Regions from separate parts of the Homo sapiens genome. Here region 1 is linked to region 2. The links come from fine-mapping of genetic effects on gene expression. A gene starts in region 2. The other region holds a variant in brackets. All regions are shown on one strand. Distances are from middle to middle.

The links. PIP is the estimated chance that this variant, and not a neighbour inherited with it, causes the effect.
Region 1: its variant is fine-mapped to the expression of ARIH2 in fibroblasts (GTEx, PIP above 0.99).

What each region holds. Positions count from the first base shown.
Region 1 is chr3:48,515,117-48,525,805 of GRCh38, forward strand. It overlaps PFKFB4 (6-phosphofructo-2-kinase/fructose-2,6-biphosphatase 4), which reads right to left. Exons shown (of 14, transcript NM_004567.4): 10 at 10,449-10,553; 11 at 8,585-8,714; 12 at 8,421-8,483; 13 at 6,870-6,934; 14 at 2,568-4,690. The coding sequence ends at 4,631. Among named protein-coding and RNA genes, the nearest start is that of SHISA5, 16 kb to the left of the region's middle. The variant A/G (reference allele first, on the strand shown) is at 4,616.
Region 2 is chr3:48,912,853-48,923,541 of GRCh38, forward strand. It overlaps ARIH2 (ariadne RBR E3 ubiquitin protein ligase 2), which reads left to right and starts at 5,990. Exons shown (of 16, transcript NM_006321.4): 1 at 5,990-6,146; 2 at 9,896-9,959. It overlaps ARIH2OS (ARIH2 opposite strand lncRNA), which reads right to left and starts at 6,533. Exons shown (of 1, transcript NR_161301.1): 1 at 4,936-6,533. RefSeq lists enhancers at 4,867-5,617, 5,423-5,892, 5,618-6,369, 6,370-7,120, 8,804-9,304 and silencers at 6,063-6,162, 6,233-6,312.

The sequences.
Region 1 (10,689 bases), 400 kb before region 2:
ATCATAGCTCACTGCAGCCTCAACTTACTGGGCTCAAGCGGTCCTCCCCCCCTCAGACTCCTGAGTAGCTGGGATTACAGGCACGCACCACCATGCCCAGCTAAGTTTTTGATCTTTTTGTAGAGACAAGGTCTCATTATGCTGCCCAGGCTAATCTCAAATGATTACAGCCATGAGCCGCTGTACCCCACCTCATTTTTCACTTTTAATAAAATAGTTTTGCCAATACAGTGGTACGTGCTTGTAATCCCAGCTACTCAGGAGGCTGAGGCAGGAGGATCGCTTGGTCATGAGTTCATAACCAGCCAGAGCTACAGAGCAAGATCCTGTTTTTGTTTTTGCCTTTGAGAGAGGGTCTTATTTTGTCGCCCAGGTTGCAGTGGCCTGACCCCGGCTCACTGCAACCTCCAACTTCTGGGCTCAAGTATTCTCTTGTCTCAGCCTCCCAAGTAGCTAGGACTGTAGACACGTGCCACCACACTTAGTCATTTGAAAATTTTTTTTGTAGAGATAGGGTCTCATTATGCTCCCCAGGCTGGTCTCAAACTCCTGGGCTCACACAACTCTCCCACCTCGGCCTCTTAAAGCACTGGGATTACAGGTGTGAACTACTGTGTTCGGTGCAAGACCCCGTTTTTACAAAAATAAGATAAAATAGTTTCGTTTAAACAATAATGTACCCAGTAATGATCAGTCTAAACCAAATATGGCAACACTCTTCTCTGCAAGTAAGAAGTATTATATATATATTTTTAGATATAAATCCAATATTGCTGAAACCTACCTATGTCTTTGCAACAATATTTGATTCTATCCAAATATTATCTGATCCTTTCAAGCTCATTCTTATTGGTGTAAGAAAAAATGAAAATAGCCAGGTGCAGTGGCTCACGCCTGTAATCACAGCACTTTGGGCGGCCAAGGCGGGCAGATCACCTGAGGTCAGGAGTTCTAGACAAGCCTGAACAACATGAAGAAACCCCATCTCTACTAAAAATACAAAATTAGCTGGGCATGGTGGCGCATGCCTGTAATCCCAGCTACTTGGGAGGCTGAGGTAGGAGAATTGCTTGAACTCAGGAGGGGCAGGTTGCAGTGAGCGGAGATCACGCCATTGCACTCCAGCCTGGGCAACAAGAGTGAAACTCCGTCTCAAAAAAATAAAATAAAATAAAAAACAAATATCCTGTGACCCTATATGATGGCTATTATTTCCCAGTAACCCAAAATGCTACTCAACATAATAATATAATTGCCCTTTCTAGGTTATGGTACAACACTGGACCTGAAGAAAAACTCTGATATTGTTATATTTCATTCCTTTTATTGTTTTCTACTAAAATCTTCAAAACCTTCTTCCAAAAGTGCTGAGAAGCCTCAAAGGGAGTCAGGTGTCCACCCTAGGAACTCAGAGCCAAGAGACAGGTGAGGACCCCCGAAGCTGTCCCCCAGGCTCTCACCAGGCAGAGGTTAGTCACCACCTGAATCCTGCAAAGTTGCCTCTCCCTCAGACACCTTGGCATAGTTGGAGAAGGCAGAAACATAGCTGCTGGCCACCCCAAACCACCCAGAAGCAGCCCAGCGACAGCCATCCTCTGCCCTGACACACTGGGAGGAGCACAGGCGAACACCCGGCAATGCCCTGCCCCATCTTGCCCACAGAGGAGCCCCGCCTACAACCCACTTCCCGGAAAGCCAGCTCCAGGGCAGGAAGTATGGACAGCCCATGATGTTCTGAGGCATGGGAAAGAGAACACCCAGCCCCTTGTCTCCACCTTCCCGACCCCAGATGCAGGTGACAAAGACAATACCAGAATAGGCCGGGTGCAGTGGTTCACGCCTGTAATCCCAGCACTTTGGGAGGCCAAGGCGGGTGCATCACCTAAGGTTGGGAGTTCAAGACAAGCCTGACCAACATGGAAAAACCCTGTCTCCACTAAAAATATAAAAACTAGCTGGGTATGATGGTGCATGCCTGTAATCCCAGCTGCTCGGGGAGGCTGAGGCAGGAGAATTGCTTGAACCCGAGGCGGAGGTCGTGGTGAGCCAAGATCGTGCCATTGCACTCCAGCCTGGCCAACAAGAGTGAAACTCCGTCTCCAAAAAATAAAAATAAAAAAAGAAAAAGAAAATACCAAAACACTGGTCAGCATACTGTCACCACAGCCTCACGCAGCCACTACATCCTTGACCCAGCTCCCGGGGCCTCCTCCCCAAGAATGCCGCATTTGGAGCCCACATTCCCAGGGACCCCAGAATCCTTCCCTTAACAGTGCTCCACTCCAGCTGCACTGCCCCCTCCACATCTGCCTCATGTTCAGGGCCAAGGGCCCCATACCCCAGGTCAGCCCAGGGAAGACCCAGGCCGCCTGCCCATGTATGCCAGGCCAGGACTCACTCCAGGGCAGCATAATTCCTCTTCAGTGAGAGTGAACATGGGGGTGGAAGCTGAACGAAGGATCCCAACACAGACCTGCGAGGAAGACCACAGCACCAGGTGTCGACAGAGCAGGCCAGAAAAAAAACACTTCAGAAATGGAGAACTGGCTACCAAATACAACCTGAGATTATTTTTTAAAAAGTATTTATTGCAAAGAATGCTGGACACAGTGTTGCATGTGGCTGAGATTCAATACCATCCATTCTGGGGAACTCGGGAAAATATCTGCAACATGGGCACGCCAGCCAGCATGGCCGAAATGTGGCAGCCAATCAGCTACACCTCAGCCCATGCGGAGACCATGCCAGGGCAGAGGCCGGGGGGTTGCCCCCACTCATGCCCTGATCCCTGGATGTCCCTCTACCCTGTCCCCAGTCCTCGTAATGCATCCAGTCCAGCAACTCCTAACTCCCCTCTGTACACAGAGAGAAAAGGCCTCGGTGGTCTCACCTCAGATGACATCCAGAGGTACATGCACTGTTGCTGACCAAGGGAACCCACTATGGCTAACAAATGAGTGTGTCCAGGTGACAAAAGTCACCAAAACTCCAAAATACACAGAAGCAAAGGCTGCAGTCCTAATGTCCCAAAGGCATGGTCCTTGGGCTCTGGGTCTAAAGGGCTTGGGGCTCTGACAGATGAGTCTGGAAGGATCTTGCCCCGGCTCCGCCTTGGACATCTCTTAGCAGAGCAGCACACAAGGATGAGAGACCACCGGCCAGGGCCAGGGACGCTAACTTCTCTCAGGGACAGGTGGCATCTGCAGGCTGCAAAGCCCTGGGAGGCTGGAAAGATGTGCTACCCTCCAGGCACAGGCCAGGAAAGGCTCCGGACACAAAGGACTTGGGATCCAGGGGCCTGGCTTCCCCAGAGTCCACCTGTGGACAGCAGGGCACCCGATTACAAGTCCAGACACTTTCTGACCCAGCCCCACAACTTGCCAGCCAGTCTGTTTGCCAGCTGTAAACAGACTGCCCAGGCTGCCTCTCTGGGACCAAAAGAACTCAGGGGCATGACAGACACTGGACTTCACAAGGCCATTTTCACCAGACTCACGTGCACATGAATGGAAGGCTGTGCTGCGGCCGGGAAAATCCTCCCTTGCCCAGGGACTGCCTATGGGTTCTGCCTTCTCCCTTCCTCAGACCCACAGGCAGAAGTCAACAAACACCAGAGAAGTTTTACAGGACCATACAAGTGTTTCTGAATTATTTATGGCAAATGCATGTTTCTGCCACCAGTGTACATTCCTGTGTGGACACGGGCAGCAACAGGGGAGAGGCCGCCTCCCCATTGGCTGCCAGTGTCCACAGCCAGGGAAGGGGAGAGGGGGCGGCAGCCTCTCCCTCGAGCACTTCGGTGTGTGCACCAGGAAGGTAACTTCCTGCCCTGTCTTGAAGTGGTTTCACTGTGAGAGCAGGCCTGAAGGGGCACCCCTGGCCACCAGCTCCCCTAAGCATACCTAAGTAGCCGGGTACATGCACAACTGGGGAGGGGCGACCACAACTGCCCCCCTGCCCTCACGTTTCTGTGCATCCCAATGTGCTGAAGCAAGCGCATTGCTTTCATGAATGCCCACAACTAAGGGTGACATGGATACAACGGCCTGGCCAGTGGCTGCCCAGGAAGCATCTGCTGTGGTTGGGGCTCTAGTTCCTGGTGGGTAAGGATGGGAAGGGCTCTCCCTCTCACCAGAGGCAGCAGAAGCTCAGGGCCCCATGAAGACCTGGCCTCTGGCTCAGGAAGTGGCCACAGAGAGGATGGTAGAGGCCCTGTGGAGAGTCACCAGGTCCATGCTGGGCAGCTGGGCCACAGTAGGAACATCACAGCAAGCACTTTCCTTTCACATTGTAGGGTTTCACACTTCACAAAGCCAACTGAGCTGGCGAGAGTGAACACCTAAGAGCTGCGCCGGAAGAAACTGGGGCTGGGCAACCTCCGCGCAGCCCATGCAGATGCAGTCTGGTCAAGTGACTCTTAGCAGCAGGTCAGGAGCCACGCACAACCTTGTCGCCGACTGTCAACAAAGAGCCAGGTGGGCTGGGGTGGGGGCTCTGGGTTCCGCCAGCCATGTGTGGCTTCAAGAATATCCCTGCATGGCATGGTGACTATCACACACACTGGAGGGCCTGGAATGACCCCCTCTGCAGAGAGCAGTGCCTGCCTAGTGGTCAC[A/G]GTGGATGAACATGGTCACTGGTGAGCAGGCACCGTGACAAGGGCTTCCTCTGGAGGTCTTGAGATGTCCACGTTCTGTACAATAAAAACACAGAGCGTTCACTCCATGGCAGGAATAGATGAGATGCCTGCTGTCTGCCGTCCTCATCACTGTGGTTCATCAGGCTTCACATTCTCACTGTAGCAGCCACAGCCGCAAGACTCTAGACCACAAGCTTCCCTAAGAATACATGGCCAAGAGCTTCGTGCCACATAGCGGGTGGATGGACAATAGAACAAAGGTGCGGTGGAGGATGCCACCTCGTTTCCTGCTCCACTGCAGCCAGGTCAGGCAATACCCAAAGCAAGGCCACTCCCACCTCCTATCTCAGGGCTGAGTCAATTGAGGAGGAACCCCTGGCTTGGGGATTTTATCCTCATCTGTGGGGCAGGGAAGGGGTTCAACTCCTGGGGGTGCCTCCTTCCTAGTTTAAAGTGTTGGCACGCAGGTGTCAGAGGTGCCCCAGAAGCCTATGGGCATTTCCTGGTCTGCAGCCTGGTCTGTCCCCTCAGAACTGGGGTACAGGGCCTCCTGAAGCCCTCAGCTATAGAAGGACCCCACCAAACTGCAGAGCTCAGTCCCATCCTTGGCCTGTCGGGCTCAGGGAGTCTCAGGCCTGAGGAATAGGGAATCTGAAACTTCCCTTAGCTCTCTGAGGCTGTCTTATGTGCCCCAGAGCCTGGTGGCCCCTCCTCCCAGCTGTGGGCCCCGGAACCATCACCTGCAGGAGCAGGTCACTGATGACCTGAGCTGCTGCCCCATGCAACATGACATGCCCAGATCTTCAGGGAGAGAGACATGGCCCCCATGGCCCACAGCCTGGGCTCATAGGACCGGCCCCTGGAATTGTAGGGGCAGGTATAATTCTTACTGCTGGGCAGGCTTCCTGAGGCGCCCCTTTTCCACCACAGCCTGCCCCAATGGATGGGCCAGAAGGGAGCCATCCAGGAACCTGGGGTTAGTAGCGGTTTGCCTCTCAGAAGCACCCACCCATAGTGGGCAGAATGACCGCCAGCCACACTATGGTGATGGACTGGTAGGGTCAGCTCCCAAGGGCTGCCAGGCCCAGGGACCTCTCTTACCATCACCCTGCCAACCCAGGGGCCTCTCTTACCATCACTCTGTCAGCGCTGGGGGCCCAGTGCCATCTGGGCCTTCCTTGGCCCAAAGGATGCCCGTTGGGAGGTACGTTCCCCTGTGACTTGTGGGTACCAAATTGGGCCTGGGCTGAACTTGGCCAAGACATGCACGAACTATCAGAGCAATGGGAAGAGAGGCCTGCAGGGTAACTGGTCCTGCTTGGGGGCAGTGGTGTTGGGAAGGGACAGGACACATCTACACACCTGTGCTGTGAGGTCCAAGGCCAGATGTCCTGGTCCAGCCCAAGACGTGCATCCTCAGCAGGGACCCAGAGCCCAAGCAGGCCCCATCATGGATGGCAAGAGGCATGACTGAGGCCCAAGAGCCTTCTCCGTGCAGTGGCCTCCAGGAACTGGGACCGGGGCTCCCAGAAGTGTAGGTCCTATCCTTGGCCCCAGTGGGAGAGGGAGCCAACATTGTGGAGGGACCCCACATGGGACTAAGAGTGGTTCTGAGCTACACTCTGAGGAGCTTCTACCTTCCACAAGGCACTTGGGGAGCACAGGTGGTGACTGCTTTTCTGGACCAAGGTCTCCACCCCATGCTGAGGCCCCTTCAGTATCTGCATGGCCCTTTCCCCAAAAGTACATGATCCCATTTTAATTTTTAAAGGTGCTGGGGTTAGGAAAGGGGCTCATGAGGCCTCGGCTGCAGGGATGGGGAGTGGGAAGAGTGCCCACCTGCCCTCAGAAGGCCAGAAGCCTCATTCTTAGCCTCCAGCCTCATTCTCACTGAGCCCAAGGGCCCCCTTGACTTAGACCTCCAAGTTGCTGCTTGGGAGCCCTGTGGCTCCTCAAGTCCTGGGGCTCCAACCACACCCAAGTTCAGGCACTCCTGAGCCTGGTGGCCCAGAGTCAGGGATTTCCCCATCCCCAGGGCAGGTGCCTTGGGAAGGCCTGATGCAGGCCCCACCCAGAGCCAGGGCCCCGCCCTGCTGATGGGACAACAGTCTTGGCAGAAGACTCAAGCTCCCTCTGGCAGGTGCCGCAGCTGGGCCTGGCCCTGGAGGATGTGCAGTCTGGACACCCCCACATCAGGAACACCCCGCTACCCCAGCAGTGACCCCATTGCTACCTGAGGCCTGTCCCGGTGCGTGTTCACAGCAGCCACGTTCAGGAATATGGACTCCACTTTACAACCTGCCAAAGGGAAGATGCAAATCCATCCCCACTCCTGAAAGGCAGCTGAGCTGCAGATGCTAGAAACTTCTCTTGGAGGGGGGTCTGGGCGTGTGGAATGGAGCAGCCATCTCAGCCTCACTCTAGTTCTTCCACTTTAGGCAGCTCTGGGGAGCCCCGGGAGGAAGGATGAGACACGCTGTCAGACCCACGCATATCTATGTGACGGCCCAGACAGGGCCACACAGAGGCCCCAGGCTCCCCAACCCCAGGACCGAGAGGGATCGGGGGAACAGCAGGCCTAAGTTGAGGTTACTGACTCTCAAAGTCTTCAGGGCCCCCAAACCACCCACATTCCAACTCTACCATATAAGGCCCAGTCAACCGTGTGCCAGGTGCACAGTGCAATGGGGGATGAGGCCATTGTCACACACTGGAGTGACATCAGCTGCCACTGGGCTTCACAGCCATTCCCCCAAGAGCACCTGTGTTAAAGGTGAAGAGCTAAGACCTGAGAGATGAAGAAGTTGCCTGAAGTCTCTGCTGGTATAGCAAGAGGCAGGGTGGGGACTCACACTGCCCTGCACCCAGAATAAAGTCCAGGCCCTGAGGACCAAGGGGCCTTGTGGGGGTTCAGAAAAATCAGTAGAAAAGCCCCTCATGCAGGTAGGCAATGGTTAAGCAAAGTCACTGGGGAGGTCTTCTGTGGCCACATAAACTTTTTCACAACAAACTTTTTTTTTTTTTTTGAGACAGGGTCTCGCTCTGTCGCCCAGGCTGGAGTGCAGTGGTGCGATCTCGGCTCACTGCAAGTTCCGCCTCCCGGGTTCATGCCATTCTCCTGCCTCAGCCTCCCAAGTAGCTGGGACTACAGGTGCCCGCCACTACGCCCAGCTAATTTTTTTGTATTTTTAGTAGAGATGGGGTTTCACCATGTTAGCCAGGAGGGTCTCTATCTCTTGACCTCGTGATCCACCCACCTCGGCCTCCCAAAGTGCTGGGATTACAGGCATGAGCCACCGCACCCAGCCCCAGAACAAACTTTTTAAAAGCAAATTAGGGCCGCAGATGGTAGCTCATGATGGTAGCTCACGCCTGTAATCCCAGCACTTTGGGAGGCCGAGGCAGGTAGATCACCTAAGGTCAGGAGTTCGAGACCAGCCTGACAACATGGTGACACTCTGTCTCTACTAAAAATACAAAAATTAGCTGGGCATGGTGGCAGGCGCCTGTAATCCTAGCTACTCGGGAGGCAGAGGCAAGAGAATCATCTGAACCCGGGAGGTGGAGGTTGTAGTGAGCCTAGATCACGCCATTGCACTCCAGCCTGGGTGACAAAGCGAGACTCCGTCTCAAAGAAAAAAAGCAAATTGGGAAAGGTGGTGGGGTAGTAGGTGGAGGAATGGGCTCCTAACACAATTTTCAAGGAATTCGGAGAAAATCATGGAACTGTGCAGAGATCCAAGGTCATGGCTACCCATGGTCAATGTGCAGGAAGCTTCCTTACCATATGCCACAGGAGTCAGCTTCAGGACTGTGTGCAGCGGACACTTGAGGTAGGGCAGCTGTTCTGTAGACACAGAGGGGGATGGCTAGCACACCAGAAATGCCTGGTGACAGTGCCTACCTTCTCACACAACCTTCCCACCTCCCCCGGGGCACAGCCCACACCTGCTGCCTTGTCGAGGAAGTAGGCCAGCAGGCAGCGCATCACAGCCTGGTGGCAGATGACCAGCACATTCTCTTGCCTCTCCAGCTCCATGATGACAGGCTCCAGTCTCTGGACCAGGTCCTCGTAGGACTGCAAGGGCAAGCAGAGAGGGGTCCCTCAGGCCTGGCTCCGGGGGAGGGACAGACACATCCTGGACACTGGGCCACCTTCCACTCCTGCAGCTACTCACCATTCTGGGAAGCTGTGGCTGGGCCTCCTCCAGCCTAGCCTTCTGAGGCCATGGGGGTGGGCAGCTGAGGAAAGGGGCCACCTTTCCCACCTCAGGGCTAGGTCCTGGTAGGATTGAGAGCGCAGAGCTAGGCCTCAGGCTCCATCCCAGGGTCCACCTCAGTGCCCACCCATGGGGCTCTGCACTGAATCCTCAGCTATAGAATTCATGTGACTGGTGGAGAAGACCTCGCCTGCTTCCAGCCCACAGCAAACAGAGTGCACTGACAAGAGCGAAGGGGAAGAGAGCAAAGACCTGGAACTTTCTGGAGTGTGACTCATCAGAAACAGCTGGGGTCCCCAGGAACTATCCTCAGTCTACCTGCCCAGTATCTTCCCCCTATGCCTGCCGTGATGTACGGTTTAGGCCCCTGCTGGGCCTCTCAACCTGGCAGGTTTAGAGATTTTCATCAGTTTCATCCTTCTGCACACAATGAGTGGTCCTTCAAAAATGGCCTCCAGCAGTCAGAACTGAACGTGCCCCAAGCTTTGATTAGGAAGCAAAAATGACACGCTGATTTGTGCCAGTTCCTGGTAGTTCTGAGAAAATCCTAGACCGGTTCTTTTGGTAACATGAATTTCTCAACCAATTCTCCTCACTGTATTCTCATGTTTGAGCAGCCAGCTGCTTTGTTTCTCCTGACCGTTATCTGGGTTGGTTCTAAATCTGAACTTGGCCTAACATAATGTGGGGAATAATTAATGTTCCCAAGAGCTATACTATCCTGAGGATGGTACAGTGTAGAGACCTGTCAGCCTGGCTTCTGGGTGGAGGTGCTTCTACATGTGTATATATATGTGTACATATGTGTGTTGACGGGGTGTATTTTTATTTGGCCCCTGCCCCAGGCCACCTCCTGGAAGTGGAAGGAGATGCCTCAGTCAAAGGTGACCCTCAGTTTCTGACCTGGGGCCTGGGCTGAACTGTGTCAGAGAAGGTGACAAGTGCAGTGGCTTGTGGTAGCCAACTCATGTGTGGAAGGTCTCCCTGGGTCTGGTGCCAGGGCTGGGGGTGGTGCCTGGAGCCACAGGAAGGACAGGATGGGCTCAGCCTGTGACAAGAGGAAGCATCCAAAGGAAGGATGAGGCCCGAGACAGGGACTCGAGTGAGCTGAGACCCGAGTCCCAGGCCTGCCATGGTCTCCCCAACTCCCCAGCCATTTGAGCGCCCCGGAAAGGGCTGACAACTCGCTGGGAAAGGAGCTGGCCTGGGAATGCCAGGGGACCGCACACTGTCTACAGGGGTCCCAGGAAAGCCTAACTCCGCAGATCCCCCACCTCAGGCCCTGCCCTTCCGAATTCTCCACCCCTGGGAAGGGGAAAGACAAGAATGGAGAGCAGGGAGCCAAAGGTCTCCAGGTTGAAGGCCTGCCCTACATGGCACTGCCCACTCCACACCTGAGGAAGGGACTAAGGCCTGGGCTGCATAGCTGGGAAGGGGTGGAGATGAACCACACACCCAGGCTGGCAGGCCTCTGAGACCAGGCCCCTTCTGCTACCCACGCAGCCCCTGCAGAGCCCCACAGGCCCTCAGCCACAGGTGGTACTCCCAGGCGGGCAGTAGGTGGCTGGGACTAAGCCCCAAATCCCACCTACCTCCCCTTTAGGGTACCGGTACCGGTACTTGTCCTGGTCCCGCAGGGCGAACTCCAGTGGATAATTATCCTGAATTTCCTCGTAGGTCATTTCCTCACAGACGCCCTAGGGAGATACCACAGTCATCACACCTCCTACAGGCCCAGAAGATGAGCCTTGGGGACATGTGGGGTGAGGCAGCATCAAGCAGAAGAGACCAAGTTCACGGGCATTTCCTGGGTGAAGGGAACAGAAACCTGTC
Region 2 (10,689 bases):
GCCCAATGTGCTGAAACGCCATCTCTACTAAAAATACAAAAATTAGCCAGGCATGGTGGCATGCACCTGTAGTCCCAGCTACTCGGTAGGCTGAGGCAGGAGAATTGCTTGAACCTGGGTGGCGGAAGTTGCAGTGAGCCGATATAGCGCCACTGCACTCCAGCCTGGGTGACAGAGTAAGACTCTATCTCAAAACAAAACAAAATTGGAAACAGATGACTTGCAATTGGAGACTGCTCAAATATAATACATTTATACTGTTATATACTCAGAAGGGTTACAGCACTGTCAAAAGGGTAGGCTCTGGATTCAGATGCCTGGGGTTAGAATCTTAGCTTGGATGGGCATGGTGGCTCATGCCTGTAATTGCAGCACTTTGGGAGGCAGAGGTTGGTGGATCACTTTAGGTCAGGAGTTCGAGACCAGCCTGACCAACATGGTGAATCCTTGTCTCTACTAAAAATACAAAAATTAGCCAGGCATGGTGGTGCGTGCCTGTAATCCCAGCTACATGGGAGGCTGAGGCAGGAGAATCGCTGGAACCCGGTAGGTGGAGGTTGCAGTCAGCCAAGATTGTGCCACTGCACTCCAGCCTGGGCAATAGAGCTAGACACCGTCTCAAAAAAAAAAAGTACTTTAGTTTGATCACTTGTTTGTGAAATGGGGATAATAATAGCAGCTTCTACTAAGTGAAAAAAGCAGCAGAATGATATTTGCAATAGCCTGCTACTAATGAAAAGGTTACTAATGAAAAGCTTTGTGTAAATGTGTGTGTGGGTAGCTATAAATATAGACATACACTGAATTTATTTATTTATTTTTTATTTTTATTTTTTTGAGACAGAGTCTTGTTCTGTTGCCCAGGCTGGAGTACAGTGGAGCGATCTCGGCTCACTGCAACCTCTGCCTCCCGAGTTCAAGCAATTCTCTTGCCTCAGCCTCCTGAGTAGCTGGGATTACAGGCATGTGCCACCATGCCTGACTAATTTTTGTATTTTTAGTAGAGACAGGGTTTCACTATGTTGGTCAGGCTGTTCTCGAACTCCTGACCTCATGATCCGTCTGCCTCGGCCTCCCAAAGTGCTGGGATTACAGGCATGAGCCACTGCACCCGGCCGACATGTACTGTATTTAGATGCATAGAAAGTGTCCTAGAAGGATGCACACCAAACTCTGGACAGTGGCAACAACCCCAAATAGGAGAAAAGAAAGGTGGAGTATATTAACGGGAGTATTCACAAGCTGCTATCAGTATTCTTGTATTACATTTTTACAACTTCATGTTATCATTACATTAGTTGCATAATTAAATTCAATAAAAACAAAGATGAATAAGATGAGAGATATACTGATATATGCAATATGTGCTTTGTGACACATATTTTCCAAAAATGGCTACACCAACCTGTATCTCATTTTATATGCTTTGCTTATAATGCAGTGTTGGTGTTTCTCCATTGACGGTGGAGCTGCATTCCCTCCCCTTGAACCTGAGAGGATCTTTGTAACTGCTTTGACTAATAAAATGTGGCAGATGTAATGCCGTGTGACTTTGAAGGTTAGGCCACAAAGGGCAACATGGCTTCCACTTGGCTCTCACTCTCTTAAGACCCTTGCCCTTGGCCGGCCAGAGTGGCTCACACCTGTTATCCCAGAATTTTGGGAAGCTGAGACAGGCAAATCACTAGAGACCAGGGGTTCTAGACCAGCCTGGCCAACATGGTGAAACCCCATTTCTTTCTTTTTTTTTTTTTTTTCTCGAGACAGAGTCTCACTTTGTCGCCCAGGCTGGAGTGCAGTGGCACGAGTGGCGCGATCTTGGCTCACTGCAACCTCCACCTCCCAGGTTCAAGCAATTCTCCTGCCTCAGCCTCCCAAGTAGCTGGGATTACAGGTGCCCACCACCAAGCCCGGCTAATTTTTGTATTTTTTAGTAGAGACGGGGTTTCACCATGTTGGGCAAGCTGGTTTCGAACTGCCGACCTCAGGCAATCTGCCCGTCTCGGCCTCCCAAAGTGCTGGGATTACAAGTGTGAGCCACCGCGCCTGGCAGTGAAATCCCATTTCTACTAAAAATACAAAAATTGACTGGGCCTGGCAGCTCACATCTGTAATCCCAGCACTTCGGGAGACCGAGGCAGGCAGATGGCTTGAGGTCAGGAGTTCAAGACCAGCCTGGCCAACATGGAGAAACCCCGTCTCTACTAAAGATACAAAATTAGCCAGGCATGGTGGTGCATGCCTGTAATCCTAGCTACCTGGGAGGCTGAGCGGGGAGAATTGCTTGAATCCGGGAGGCGGAGGTTGTGGTGAGCCGAGATCGCACCATTGTACTGCAGCCTGGGCAACAAGAGCAAAATTCCATCTCAAAGAAAAAAAAACAGAAAAAATAGCTGAACATGGTGTGCACGCCTGTCATCCTGACATCTCAGCTACTATGGAGGCTGAGGCACAAGAATCACTTGAACCCAGGAGGTTGCAGTGAGTTGAGATCATGCCACTGCACTCCAGCCTGGGCGATAGAGTGATACTCTGTCTCAAAAAAAAAAAAAAAAAGACCTTTGCCCTTCAAATCCAGCCACCATGTTACCAGGAAGCACAGGCCACATGGAGAGATCATGCATGTGTATGTTCTGGCTGACAGCCCCAGCTAGGCCCCCAGCTGACATCACCCACCAGAAGTATGAGTAAACAACTTTGCCTATGATTCCACTCCCCAGTCTTTGAGTCTTCTTGCTGAGGCCCCCTCAGCTGTGGAGCTGAGATAAACCTTCCCATTGTGGCTTGTCTGGATTCCTGTTCCAAAGAAACCATGAGAGACTTTGTATATTTTATATGCATTCATATTTTATTTACTTTTTCTTTTTTGAGACAGAGCTACTGTGTTGCCCAGGCTGGAGTGCAGTGGTGCAATCTCGGCTCGCTGCAACCTCCGCCTCCCGGGTTCAAGTTATTCTCCCTGCCTCAGCCTCCCGAGTAGCTGGAATTACAGGCATGCACCACCATGCCTGGCTAATTTTTGTATTTTTTAGTAGAGACAGGGTTTTGCCATGTTGGTCAGGCCGGTCTGGAACTCCTGACCTCAGGCGATCCGCCCGCCTCCACCTCCCAAAGTGCTGGGATTACAGGTGTGAGCCACCACACCCGGCCCCTATCCTATTCTTATCACTTGAGTATATCACAAATAACCTTTCCTTGTCAATAGGTGCCTTAGTACAGCATTTTTTTTTCTTTTTTTGAAGACAGGTTCTGGCTCTGTCCCCCAGGCTGGAGTGCAGTAGCCCGATCTCTTGCTCACTGCAGCCTCCACATCCTGGGTCTTAAGTGATCCTCCCACCTCAGCCTCCCAAGTAGGTGGAGCTATAAGCACATCCAGCTAACTTGTATTTTTTGTAGAGACGGGGTTTCACCATGTTGCTCAGGCTGGTCTTGAACTCCTAGGCTCAAGTGATCCACCTGCCTCAGCCTCCCAAAGTGCTGGGATTACAGGCGTGAGCCACCACACCTGGCCAAAACTTTTTCTTTTTTTTGTAGACATGGAATCTCACTATGTTGCCCAGGCTGGTCTCCAACTCCTGGGCTCAAGCAATCCTCTCACCTTGGCTTCCCAAAGTGCTGGGATTACAGGCTTGAGCCACCATGCCCTGCCACCCAGTATGATTTATTTCATTTTTTTTGGTAAAGTGAAAGCAAGTTTATTAGAGAAGTAAAGAAACAAAGGAGACCAGGAGCAGTGGCTCACGCCTGTAATCCCAGAACTTTGGGAGGCCGAGGTGGGCGGATCAAGGAGTCAAGAGATCCAGACCATCCTGGCCAACATGATGAAACCTTGTCTCTACTAAAAATACAAAAATTACCATCCTGGCTAACACGGTGAAACCCCGTCTCTACTAAAAATACAAAAAAAATTAGGCGTGGTGGCGGGCGCCTGTAGTCCCAGCTACTCGGGAAGCTGAGGCAGGAGAATGGCGTGAACCCGGGAGGCGGAGCTTGCAGTGAGCCTAGATCGCGCCACTGCACTCCAGCCTGGGCAACAGAGAGAGACTCCGTCAAAAAAAAAAAAAAAAAAAAAAAATTAGCTGGGCGCGGTGGTGCGCGCCTGTAGTCCCAGCTACTCGGGAGACTGAGGCAGGAGAATCACTTGAACCCAGGAAGCGGAGGTTGAAGTGAGCGGAGATAGCGGCTCTCTCACTGCACTCCAGCCTGGGCGACAGAGCGAGACTCCGTCTCAAAAAAAAAAAAAAAAAAGTAATTGCTACTCCATAGGCAGAGCAGTCCACCCGACAAGGTTTTTGTTGTTGTTGTTGTTTGAGACAGAGTCTCGCTCTGTCCCCCAGGCTGGAGTGCAGTGGCGCGATCTCTGCTCGCTGCAACCTCCGCCTGCCGAGTTCAAGCAATTCTCCTGCCTCAGCCTCCCGAGTAGCTGGGACTACAGGCGCCCACCATCACGCCCGGCAAATTTTGTAAATTTTTAGTAGAGACAGGGTTTCACCATGCTGGTCAGGCCAGTCTCGAATTCCTGACCTCGTGATCTGCCGGCTCCGGCCTCCCAACGTGCTGGGATTACAGGCGTGAGCCACGGTGCCCGGCCACGCGGCATGATTTTTAATGGCTTTCTACATTGTATGGTTTGTTATTGTTGTTTTGAGACAGGGTCTCCTTCTATCACCGATGCTGGACTGCAGTGGTGCGATCTTGGCACTCTGCAGCCTCGACCTCCTCGGCTCAAGCGATCCTATATCACCTCAGCCCCCTGAGTAGCTGGGATGCACAGGTGTGTGCCACCTCGCCCAGCTAATTTTTAATTTTTTTGTAGAAAGGAGGGGGGTCTCACTACATCAAATTCTTGGGCTCAAGCGATCCTCCCACCTCGGCTTCCCAAAGTGCAGGGATTACAGGCATGAGCCACAGCGACCAGCCAGCACAGGTGTCTTTATTTGTTTTATTTTTTATTTTATTTTATTTTATTTTGAGACAGAGTCTCGCTCTGTCGCCCAGGCTGGAGTGCAGTGGCGCCATCTCGACTCACTGCAAGCTCCGCCTCCCGGGTTCACGCCATTCTCCTGCCTCAGCCTCCCGAGTAGCTGGGACTACAGGCGCCCGCCACCACGTCCGGCTAATTTTTTTGTACTTTTAGTACAGACGGGGTTTCACCGTGTTAGCCAGGATGGTCTCGATCTCCTGACCTCGTGATCCACTCGCCTCGGCCTCCCAAAGTGCTGGGATTACAGGCTTGAGCCACCGCGCCCGGCCTGCACAGGTGTCTTGAATATGTATATACGCGACTCCAGTATGGTTGGAAATGATTTGATTTGTTGTCTATGGAATTGCACAACCTGGAGCCTTCCTAACATCAGCGGCTTCATACTGGCATTTCCATTGTGGTGCAGCAACAATCTGAGTGAGCCTCCGTCTCTAGCCACATCATTTGACAACCGGTCCCAGAAGGTAACTGGAAGTCATGATGACAACTCCTATACTGTGAAAAGAAACTGCAAGCAAGGCAGTTAAGATGCAATCTTGCACGGTGACCGTAAGTCGGAGAACTGCGCGGCGAACGAGGCCTCGGCAGGGGAAGCGAAAGCCTGGTGTGGTTGCGGCTCTGGGGCCACCCTGCGACCGCCTCGGGGTGTAGGCAGAATTTCCCGGCCCAGCTCCCCTCTGACCAGATAGCGGCCGAGAAACAATGGTTATCTGCTCCACTGACGCCAGGATGTCTTCTCCGTGCCCGATCCCGGAGTACAAACAGTGAAATGAGAAGCCGGTGAGAAACGCGCTGGTTAAAAACATCTCGACGGGAGACGCTGGTAGGCGAATAGTGGCTCCAGACGCGGTCGGCGCCTGCCGTACCCTGGTCAGACTCTGGGTCAGAGCGCTAAGTTTCAAGGAGGCGGCGCTAAACAGGCCCTCTAGCCGGGAGCCTGTCGCGACCCGAGCGACCGTGGGTCGACCCCGATCCGGAAGTGACGCAACGGCGCCAAGCACTTCCGGAGCTGTGGGGACGACTCTTCTGGAGGAAGCAGCGCGGGCTTGACCGGCGTCGGCCCGCCGCCTCCGCTGCCGCTTCGCCCCAATCCGGTCCCTCTGGCCCGGCCTGACCCGGTCTGGCTTGTTCGGGCTCAGCGGCCGCGAGGCCGCAGCTCCCGGTAAGTGCGCGGCGCACGTCACGGCCTTGTTTACCTTGGCTGGCCGCTGGGGGGGCCTCTCCGCGCGCCTCCCTGGCCGGGCCGGGACTCCGCCTTCGCCGTCGCCCGGGAGGCCCGGGCGCTCCCCGTCGCCGGCACGTTGTCCGAGCATTACCCGCCGTCAGCGGCCGGGCGCCCAGCGTGTGTCTGCCTTTTTTCCTCCCGCCGCCTTCTCAGCTCTCGGAAAGGTCAGAGGCCACCGCCTCTGACCAACCGGCGCCGGCACATCTAGGCCCTCTCTCCCTGTCTGGCGCGGCGGGGAAACGCGCCGCCTCGGGGCTCACCACTCGAGTCATCTTTGGGAGCTCTCGCAGCGCTGCCCGCGCGGTTTAACGCCCGCCTGTGGAGGGTATCCCCAGCTCGCGGGCTCCGCGTCCGCGCGAATATCCCGGAGCCCGCGGCGCCCCTAGGGATGTGCGGCCCCGGAGCTGTGCCGCCGCCTCGCCAGAAGCTGGTTGGGCAGCCGCGTTCTTGGATGACTTCTCCTTAGTACTGTTCATTGCCTGGTCCCATAGAACTTTCTGTCATAGCGACATGTTCTTTACCTTTGCTGTTCAGCATGGTAGCTACTAGCCACACGTGGCCGTTAAGCATTTGACCTGTAGGCTAGTGCACCTGAGAAACTAAATTTTAAATTTTACTTACTTTTTAAGTGTAATTAAATTTAAATAACCACATGTGGCTAGTGGTCACCGTATTAGAAAAGACAGATACAAAGTGTAGGATTTTGAAACGAAATTGCTGATTTCTAGTTTTGTGCCAAGTCGTTTTTCTTCGGAGGTGTAGTTAGTAAATGACCTGAATTCAGCGCTAGTGATCATATCTGGAGTAAACGTCTTCAGACTCACTAAAACTTACGTGTTCTGTGCGTGGTGGGCAAGCCCAGGATGGTTGGTTGTTAGGTCCCCTGAACATGTGACTTTGGCTCTGGAGGAAATTTTTTTTTTTTTTTTTTTTGGTGGGCGGGACAAAGTTGCTGTCACCAGGCTGGAGTGCAGTGGCGGCGATCACAGCTAACTGCAGCCCCGACTTTCTGGGCTCAAGTGATCCTCCTTTCTTAGCCTCCTAAGTAGCTGGGACCACAGGCACGTACCACCACACCTGGCTAATTTGTAAAATTTTTTGTGGATACGTGATCTTAATAGGTTGCCTAAGCTGGTCTTGAACTGCTGGGCTCAAGCTATCCTCCCGGTTTGACCTCCTAAAGTGCTGGGATTACAGGCGTGAGCCACTGTGCATGACCTTTAAAAAAATTTTTTTTGAAAAAGTGCCCGGCCCACTTTTTCAAGTAGAATTCGGATATTTAACTTTGAGATGATTAAAAATTAAATTTTCATTTAAATGTGCACCTAGAACATTTAGTATGAAATGGAGTTCTCTCTCTTTTTTTTTTGGAGGAGCCTGGAGTTTTCCCCACCTAAATATTTGGTTGGTGAGAAGCCTGTGAGCAATTTCTTTTTTTTTTTTTTTTTTTGACACGGAGTCTCACTGTGTTGCCCAGGCTGGAGTGCAGTGGTGCAGTCTCGGTTCACTGCAGCCTCCATCTCCCAGATCAAGCAGTTCTGCCTTAGCCTCCCGAGTAGCTGGGATTACAGCTGGGATTACACCCAGGCTGGTTGGAGGGCAGTGGCGTGATCATGGCTCGCTGCAATCTCCTGGACTCAAATAATCCTCCTCACTTTGGGAGGCCGAGGCGGGCGGATCACGAGGTCAGGAGATCGAGACCATCCTGGCTAACACGGTGAAACCCCATCTCTACTAAAAATACAAAAAATTAGCCAGGCATGGTGGCGGGCGCCTGTAATCCAGTGAGCCGAGATCGCGCCACTGCACTCCAGCAAGACTCTCAAAAAAAAAAAAAAAGAAAGAAAAGAAAAGAAATATTGTCCCCTTGGAACAAGATCAGCACTTTTTCTTTCTTTCATTTATTTATTTTTATTTTTGAGTCCCGCTCTGTCTCTCAGGCTGGAGTGCAGTGGCGCGATCTCGGCTCACTGCAACCTCCGCCTCCTGGGTTCAAGCGATTCTCCTGCCTCAGCCTCCTGAGTAGCTGGGATTATAGGCGCATGCTACCACGCCCAGCTAATTTTTGTATTTTTAGTAGAGACAGGATTTCATCATGTTGATTAGGCTGGTCTCGAACTCTTGACCTTGTGATCTGCCACCTTAGCCTCCCAAAGTGTTGGGATCACAGGCGTGAGCCACCGTGCCCGGCCCACTTTTTCAAGTAGAATTTGGGTATTTAACTTTGAGATAATTAAAAATTAAATTTTCATTTAAATCTGCACCTAGAACATTTAGTATGAAATGGAGTTCTCTCTCTTTTTTTTTTGGAGGAGCCTGGAGTTTTCCCCACCTAAATATTTGGTTGGTGAAAAGCCTGTGGGCAATTTCTTTTTTTTTTTTTTTTTTTTTGACACGGAGTCTCACTGTGTTGCCCAGGCTGGAGTGCAGTGGTGCAGTCTCGGTTCACTGCAGCCTCCATCTCCCAGATCAAGCAATTCTCCTGCCGTAGCCTCCCGAGTAGCTGGGATTACAGGTATGCGCCACCATTCCTGGCTAATTTTTGTGTTTTTTGTAGCAGTGAGGTTTCACCATGTTGCCCAGGCTTGTTTTGAACTCCTGAGCTGAAGCCGTCCACCCACCTTGGCCTCCCAAACCAAAGTGCTGGGATTACTGGCATGAGCCACCACACGTGGTCCTGGAATTTTTCTTTTTTTTTTTCTTTTTTGAAGACAGGGTCTCACTCTGTCGCCTAGACTGGAGTGTAGTGGCGTGATCTTGGCTCACTGCAGCCTCAACCTCCTGTGCTCAAGAAATCCTCCCACCTCAGCCTCCCAAGTAGCTGGGACTACAGGCATGCACCACCACGACATTTATGAGTAATGTGACATAAATGAGCCACGACAGCATGAGTAAAGTGAGATCTGAAATATTAGCATTATTCTGTGTTAGATTACCACAGTGGAGGTGATTTTGTAGTAAAAGTTAAATTTTAAGTCAGTTACAATTTGCTTGGTCAACATCTACATAACATTTAGGATTGAAATTGTGGTAGTTGAGAATCTGAAGGACAGAAATACTGGAGTAAAGAAGCAGGCTTTCAGCTGGGTGAGGTGGAGGTTACAGTGAGCTGAGATGGCAACACTGCACTCCAACCTGGGTGACAGAGGGAGGCCCTGTCTCAAACAAACAAAAAAAAGAAGTGGTCTTTCAAACTGAGAGAGAGAATTGAGATTAAATTATTGCTACCTGTTTACTTAGATTACTTTCTTTTTTTTTTTTTTGAGACGAATTTTCTTGTCACCCAGGCTCAAGTGCAGTGGCGCGATCTCACCTCACTGCAACCTCTGCCTCCCTGGTTGGAGTGATTCTCCTGCCTCAGCCTTCCGAGTAGCTGGGATTACAGGTGCTCGAACTCCTGACCTCAGGTGATCCACCTGCCTTGGCCTCCCAAAGTGCTGGGATTACAGGCGTGAGCCACAACACCCAGCTGAATACTTTCTTTTTTTAGAAGGTCATGTAACTCTTGTCAATATAATTATGTCATGGATTTTTTTTGTTGGCACTTTAAAAGAAGATAATTAATTTAATAGTTACTCTGTCCCTTGTTACTTGTCCTTTAAAATACCTTTGCTTTAAAAAAAAAATAAACTTGCAAAAGCAGTATACCAGCTTTAAAAATATAAATATAATTCTTTTCATTTTAGATGGAAATCATATTATGTAGAATACTTGGGTGACATCTGCCTGAGAGATCTCCAAGAATTACAGGTATCTTTAATTTAAAGATTAACTTTTTCTCCTAAAGAAAAAACACCATCGTTAAGTTTAGTTGTGATTATGTGGCTCTACCATACAGAAGAGTTTGTTAAAAGTCAAACTGCTGGCCAGGCACAGTGGCTTGCATCTGTAATCCCAGCACTTTGGGAGGCTGAGGTGGGCGGATCACGAGGTCAGGAGATCGAGACCATCCCGGCTAAAACGGTGAAACCCCGTCTCTACTGAAAATACAAAAAATTAGCCGGGCGTAGTGGCGGGCGCCTGTAGTCCCAGCTACTTGGGAGGCTGAGGCAGGAGAATGGCGTGAACCCGGGAGGCAGAGCTTGCAGTGAGCCGAGATCCCGCCACTGCACTCCAGCCTGGGCGACAGAGCGAGACTCCGTCTCAAAAAAAAAAAAGAAACCTTATCTCTATTAAAAATACAAAAAAAATTAGCTGGGCATTGTGGCATGTGCTTGTAATCCCAGCTACTGAGAGACTGAGGCAGGAGAATTGCTTGAACCCGGAAGGCAGAGGTTGCAGTGAGCTGAGATCGTGCCACTGCATTCCAGCCAGGGTGACAGAGTGAGACTCTGTCTCAAAAAAAAAAAAAGGTCAGACTGCAAACATTATTTTTATTGCCCCACAATTAATAGGGTTTTTTTTTTAATTTTTAGAAATGGGAGCATTTATAGTTAACATATCAACTTAGATATAGTGAGTGTTTTTTTTTTTTTTTAAG